Linked DNA regions of Homo sapiens: region 1 is reported to be linked to region 2. The links are microRNA targets in miRTarBase. Many come from high-throughput screens and were not tested one by one. Region 2 holds a microRNA gene; the other region holds the end of a gene's coding sequence.

What was found. Region 2 holds the annotated microRNA hsa-miR-4766-3p (AUAGCAAUUGCUCUUUUGGAA, at 967-987, shown strand). A microRNA usually pairs through its seed, bases 2 to 8, with sites in the 3' UTR of a target mRNA and lowers its output. Matches are read on the target gene's strand: a 7mer-m8 pairs with bases 2 to 8, a 7mer-A1 pairs with bases 2 to 7 and ends in A, and an 8mer does both.
Region 1: miRTarBase lists RBBP4 as a target of hsa-miR-4766-3p. Seed matches in the 3' UTR shown: 7mer-A1 at 642-648.

The regions. Positions count from the first base shown.
Region 1 is chr1:32,679,032-32,682,446 of GRCh38, reverse strand. RBBP4 (RB binding protein 4, chromatin remodeling factor) reads right to left here. Exons shown (of 12, transcript NM_005610.3): 12 at 1-2,807. The coding sequence ends at 2,742. SYNC (syncoilin, intermediate filament protein) reads left to right here. Exons shown (of 5, transcript NM_030786.3): 5 at 587-2,541. The coding sequence ends at 597. Among named protein-coding and RNA genes, the nearest start is that of SYNC, 22 kb to the left of the region's middle.
Region 2 is chr22:40,811,465-40,814,879 of GRCh38, reverse strand. MIR4766 (microRNA 4766) reads left to right here and starts at 922; the gene lies at 922-997. All of the region lies in intron 1 of SLC25A17 (solute carrier family 25 member 17), which reads left to right.

The DNA of each region.
Region 1 (3,415 bases), not on the chromosome of region 2:
TTTTTTAAATTTCTTTTTAGTAGAGATGGGGGGTCGGGTCTTGCTATTTTGCCCAGGCTGGAGTAGTGGCACGATCTTGGCTCACTGCAACTCTGCCTCCTGGGTTCAAACAATACTCCTGCCTCAGCCTGCTAAGTAGCTGGGATTACAGGCATAAGCCATCACACCCAGCCTTGAGGATTTTCTTATACTGTGTTTGAATCCACATGACTGATAATATGCTTAATGTTTGAGAAATTATAACCTTGCAATTGAGGTTAATGATCTACTAACTACCTTTGTGTTGATCAGATTGTGTACAATCTGGAAAAGACAACGACTAATCCAAAGAAATGAAACTACAGAATTTCAGGCATTGTAATTATACCTGTAAGAAGTTAACCTAGCAGAGAAAACGTTTAACTATCCCTCCCATCACCATCACCATTCATTCTATTTGACAAACAGGAGGCATCCAAATATTTGCTAGGGGAAAGTCATCCCTGATCATCCATAAATCACACTGTAACAATCTCTTCTCAACAAAGCCTGCAGTAACTAAACCTCAGAAGTTCACTGTTATAAACTTTTTCTTTCAACTTTACAGGGGCTGTTTAGAAATATATGGCCAAATCTGTAACCCGGAAACAGCAAAAAACTTCTTAGCAAAGGATCACTAAGTACCCTTTGGATGTACTCTTCCAACCAGACAAGAGTGCCAGAAACTTGGCAAGCAATTCATCCTGTGGAAGTTGCAAATACTGGCTGACCTGCTTAAAAAGATTCTAGAGTTGGCCGGAGGCAGAACATGTCAACTCTTTGCTGGATTCTATTTCATCTGCTGTTGATACTGATCTCAATGCACCAAGGAAAGGAAAGATGAGCCTCCTGTCTTCCAGCAACAACCCTCACATATGCACTGAGTGAAGGATGAATGTATGGACACATCTGGGAGTATTTTAAAGAATGTATCTTGCCTTGTGTTGACCCAAACCAAAAACATTTTTGAGGGGCACATGTGGGGTCAAAAAGATAGCCAATTTCCATTACATGGGTTTACAATTTCCATTCTTTTGTGCCACGAGTGTTAGAATTTAAATGAATACTTTTACAAAGTCTACTTTTTGTTCAAGGATATGCTGACCCATATAGTTTACTCTTAAAATTGTGTCAAGGTATTTCTCACTATACTCTAAAACAACTAGACTTGAAAAGAAACCATTTGAGATTTGAATCTAATGGTTAACGCTATTCAGATTTTCCCAAAGATCTTACCTCATGAAAGTAGTTCTGGGTCAGAATGATCTACTCAGTTAAAAAACAACAACAACAAAAAACTAAGCGATTGGGAAAAAACAGGAATTTTATCTGGTTATTGCATCTGGTGATAGAGGCCTTCAAAGCCTATTATTTCTAACCTAAGTAAAGGCCCCAGTGAAAAACATACTGGGGAAATAAAACCTCTGAGAAAAGGTTCAAGCACCTTTTCCAAATTTAAATCTTGCCTTAAATTCTCTCTACCACACTGCCTTTGACACTCTTGGAAGTCCATGTAGTTCTCTACAGATAGACTTCAAAGAAACGTTACCTTATCAAAGACTAATCTGTGCCACCTCTGATTCAGTGTTTTATGTCTTTCACTTTCCCTGGGAAGGAGTAAAGTTCTTTTCTACAGCTCTGGGACTATTACATTTAATTCTGCTCTTGATAGTCAAAGACCATGGACAACAACTGTCATCTGAAGGACTCTTCTAGAAGCCAGAGACTGGTGTTTGATGGATGTTTTATACTAAATAAAACCCATCAGCATGGGGTTATGTAGAAAAGCAATTTATTCCATTTTAAGCACTTACACAGTTAGTCATGGAGAGTAACAGGCCTGCTGGTGAAACAGGTCACCCAAAATGGAGATGGCATCAAACTAGTGGTCAAGGACTAACTCCTAAAAAAAAAAAGCAACTCTTATCAAGGATTAATTTAATTTTTAAAACAAATACAAGTTATTGATTCACTCTTCTCAACTTGACAGTCTACCTGTGGTATAACTGTCAGGTAAAAACATACATCTTTACAACTTGGTGGTCCCAAGTTAAAAAAAAAAAAAAAAAAACCAACAACAAAAAAAAAAACACCATTTCACAGACAGGAAATAAACAACATGAAAACAGCTCAAGAAATACACTAACGAGCAAAAATATATGAATATATGGGGAAAGAGGAACGTGTTGTTTTGACTTAACTGAAGAAACCAAGAGGAAACTGGTCTACGTATGAAAATGTGCATCCTGGAAAGTCAGGTGTCAAGATTTTCGAGTAGGAATCTATATGACTTGAATCTCCCCCTATTTCCTGAATAAAAGTGACATCTTTCAGTATTTATACTTCATGGCTCAGACACCTACCTCATTTGGCTCTATTCCTTACTCACTCTAGCCTTTACTTAAATGAGTCTGAAAAACTTGGGGATATAGCATAAGAAGAAAAATAATCACACATAATATTCCCCTTTCTGTAGCTACTTTAGACCTGGGTTACTAGAAAATTCCTGAAGAAAATTTCAACGTTAAGTCTGTGGCTTTGTTGAATCAAGCCCCCCTATTAATATTTAGAAAACACCCACGGTTTGGGCTAATAGCATTATCGGTGGTACCTATTATATAGAGGGATAGCTGAATAAAGTCTGTCTCAAAACCAGTGTTAAATCACTCTCAGGGTTGAGAAGAAAAAAGGGGAGTCTAAAATCACAACAAGTAAAGACATATCTAGGACCCTTGTCCTTCTGGATCCACGCTTCCTTCAGGGTCTTCATCATTATAAATGTTCTCTGCCTGCCCAAAAACAAGAAAAAGAATTTAAACATGAAGACTTCTTCTAAAACTCAAGGTTTCAACAACAGATTAGGCCAGGAAGCCAGAGAGTAAATACTTTATAGCTTTTGGGCCACACAATCTGTGTTACAACTATTCAACTCTTGGATGAAAGTATCCGGAGACAACCTATAATGGGTAATGAAATATTAATTAGCATGATCATGTTCCAATAAAAATAAGCAGCTGATCCCCAGACGCCTGATTAGGACATTCCCACAAAACTGCAGTGTGGATACTATTTGTCTTGATAGCCAACATTCTTGAGTTCTTTAACCAGGCATTATTATTTTTCTTTCCTTTTGAGATGGAGCCTTGCTCTGTCTCCCAGGCTGGAGTGCAGTGGCACCATCTCGGCTCACTGCAACCTATGCCTCCCAGGTTCAAGCAATTCTCCTGCCTCAGCCTCCAGAGTAGCTAGGATTACAGGCACATGCCACTACGCCTGGCTAATTTTTGTATTTTTAATAGAGATGGGGTTTCACCATGTTGGCCAGGCTGGTCTCGAACTCCTGATCTCAGGTGATCTGCCCACCTCGGCCTCTCAAAGTGCTAGGATTATAGGAGTA
Region 2 (3,415 bases):
CCACTGCACTCCAGCCTGGACGACAGAGCAAGACTCCGTCTCAAAAACAAAAAAAACCAAAACAAAACAAAACAACAACAACAACAACAATATATATATATATATATATATATATATATATATATTCTGCACGTACTGCCTTTCCTCATCCTACTTTGACCACTGGAACTGTTCTTCCAAAGGTCAACTCTGACTTCCTAACAGCTTAATCTACTATTGTGAATGGTTTAAGGTCATGGATAACCAGGTACACACACATTTGTGTCTTTTCACAATGTCAGACTTTTATTGTGTTATTTCAGTTATAAAAGACAAGTTACATGGAGTTCTCAAGGAGGCAATTTTTATTAGTACTTCTCATTCACTAGGTAGTCAGTCAATATTGTAAATCATATATAATAGTATACCTAATTAATACATAAATGATGTAGATTAAACATTCTGCAACAAAGTAACATTGAACATCAAGAGAAAAGGGTGAGGAAAAAGGGTTACCTAACCAGTCCGGGGAGAGTGATATAGACAAGTATCCTGGTTTCATCATGGCAGTGTGTTGGTCTTGTAAGAAAGAATCCTTGATGTGGGCAGAGCCTTTGGACACAGATATCAGGCTTTTATAACAAGTGACAGCAAGACAGTGTCTGTTAAGACCATTTTGAGTTTTTTAAGTCCTGTTCTTTTTATGGTCACAGAGTCTTCTGGTAAGGACTGATAGTGGAAGAGCATGCTTGGTTGTGTCTTTATCTGGAAAAACATCTGGTCCCTGTTGTCAAAGTGCTTTTTGAAATGAAAGATAGGAGTCTTTTTCTAAGATGGAGTTACTTATGTCAAGAGTGCTCTATACATCTACTGACTGTTTTTGCATTCTTAATTGATTCCAGTTCTTTGTAAGTATTCTATACTGTTGACCCTTCTACCTTTCTGAAGCTCCTTCTGAAAGAGCAGTTGGTGTTTATTTTTTACTAAATAGCAATTGCTCTTTTGGAAGGAACTTGAGAAGACATTACTCCTTTTAGGGCCCTAAAATTAACAGTGGTTTCTACTACTAACAGATACTATAGCTATAAAGGACATGTAGAAACCAACAATTGTTGAGTGCCACCTGTGTGCCTGGTATGATGCTAGGTGCCAACCATAATTTTTTGTTTTTGTTTTTGAAACTCAGTCTCGCTCTGTCGCCCAGGCTGGAGTGCAGTGGCGTGATCTCGGCTCACTGCAAGCTCCGCCTCCTGGGTTCACGCCATTCTCCTGCCTCAGCCTTCCGAGTAGCTGGGACTACAGGTGTCTGCCACCACACCCGGCTAATCTTTTTGTATTTTTAATAGAGAGGGTATTTTTTTTTTATACAGAGTCTCGCTCTGTCACCCAGGCTGGAGTGCGGTGGCACGATCTCGGCTTACTGCAACCTCTGCCTCCCAGGTTCAAGTGATTCTCCTGCCACATCCTCCAGAGTACCTGGGACTACAGGTGTGTGCCACCACTCCTGGCTCATTTTTGTATTTTTAGTAGAGATGAGGTCTCACCGTGTTGGCCAGGCTGGTCTCGAACTCCTGACCTCAAGTGATCCACCCACCTCAGCCTCCCAAAGTGCTGGGATTGCAGGTGTGAGCCACCATGCCCAGCTACTTTCCATAATTTGATTCTAACTTCTCATAGCAACCTTGACAAATACCGGTCTCAAAATTACAAATGAGGAAATTGAGACATAGAGATTTGAAGTTACTTATGTAATATATACTATACTTGGGACGTAAACCTATATTTTATCCCTAAACACTCGAGAGTGTCATCCATGAGGCCATTTGTGTAACTTGCCTATCTGTCTGTGTATGTATGAGTTAGCTTGATTGTTATGTCAGGGAAAAGACTTACATTAACTCTGATGAGGTGAATAACATTTTTAAATATGAAAGCCATTGTAAGTGGCTTTTAATCTTTAGAATTTTATTAGCTCAAACCACAGAAAACATCTTAGGTGGTTTTTAAAAATTTTTTTAAATTTTTATTTGTTTTGAGACTAAGTCTCACTGTGTTTCCCAGGCTGGAGTGCTGTGGGATGATCACAGCTCACTGCAGCCTCAATCTCCTGAGCTCAAGCCATTCTCCCACCTCCTAAAGTGCTGGGATTGCAGGTGTGAGCCACCGTGTCTGGCTTTAAAATAATCTTTCTGTTCTATAATGCAGTGTTCTAAATCAGGAGAGGCTATACATTGATTTCAGTGGTGCTGCTGTGACTCAGCCACGTCGGGACCCCTCTGGAAACTGATTTTGGACTAGCATTGTCTTTTTTACCCCCACCACTAGTTTTCACCCTGCTAGGATGAATCAACATTTTAGAAACAGTCAGTCACATTTGGTGATTTGGTTGGTATACCAACCCAAACATCATTGTTTTATGCTTAAAAGGCATGAAAATATGCTTCTGTATTTATGTATGTTCTTATCTATTATTCCCATAAGATTGCACACGCTGGGGGGACCAAGTCTTGACCAGATTTACCCAGTGTTTCATTCTTACTCTATCTGTAAGCCCAACTTCATATGTGGATTGTGTTGACCAAATTAAAAAGTATACTTTAGATATTTACAGGAGAGATATAGCCCAGAATGAATAAACCATCTTTTTTTTTTAGTAAGTAGCCTGAAATGTAGATGATGATGCATTCTTAAGAAATCCAGGTGCCAGGCTGGGCGTGGTGGCTCACGCCTGTAATCATAGCACTTTGAGAGGCTGAGGCAGGCAAAACACTTGAGGCCAGGAGTTTGAGACCAGCCTGGGCAATGTAGTGAGACCTCATCTCTAAAAATAAATAAGTTAAAAAGAAAGAGAGAGAGAGAGAGAGAGAAAGAAAAAGAGAAAAAGAAAGAAATCCAGGTGTCAGTTCAGAATTGTTCACAAAAAAGAGGAACCCCCAAATCCCCAAGAACTTAGGCTAAAAATCGTTTATGTGACTGATACAGTTTGGATGTTTGACCCCTCCAAATCTCAGTTTGGATGTTTGACCCCTCCAAATCTCATGTTGAAATGTGACCCCCAGTGTTGGAGGTGAGGCCTAGTGGGAGGTGTTTGGGTCATGGGGGCAGATCCCTCATAAATGGCTTGGTGCCATCCCCTTGGTGATGAGTGAGTTCTCACTGTTAGTTCATGGGAGAGCTGGTTATTTAAAAGAGCCTGGTACCCACGCCTCTCTCTCTTACTCCCTCTCTTACCATGTGACATACCTGTTCCCCTTTCACCTTCCACCATGATCATAAGCCACCTGAGGCCCTCACCAGAAGCAGATGCCAGCACTGTGCTGGCTCATACCTGTAGTCTCAGCTACTCAGGAGTCTGAGGCTGGAGAATCACTTGAGTCTGGGAAGCCAAGGTTGCAGTGAGCCACGATTGCACCACTGCACTCCAGCCTGGGCGACA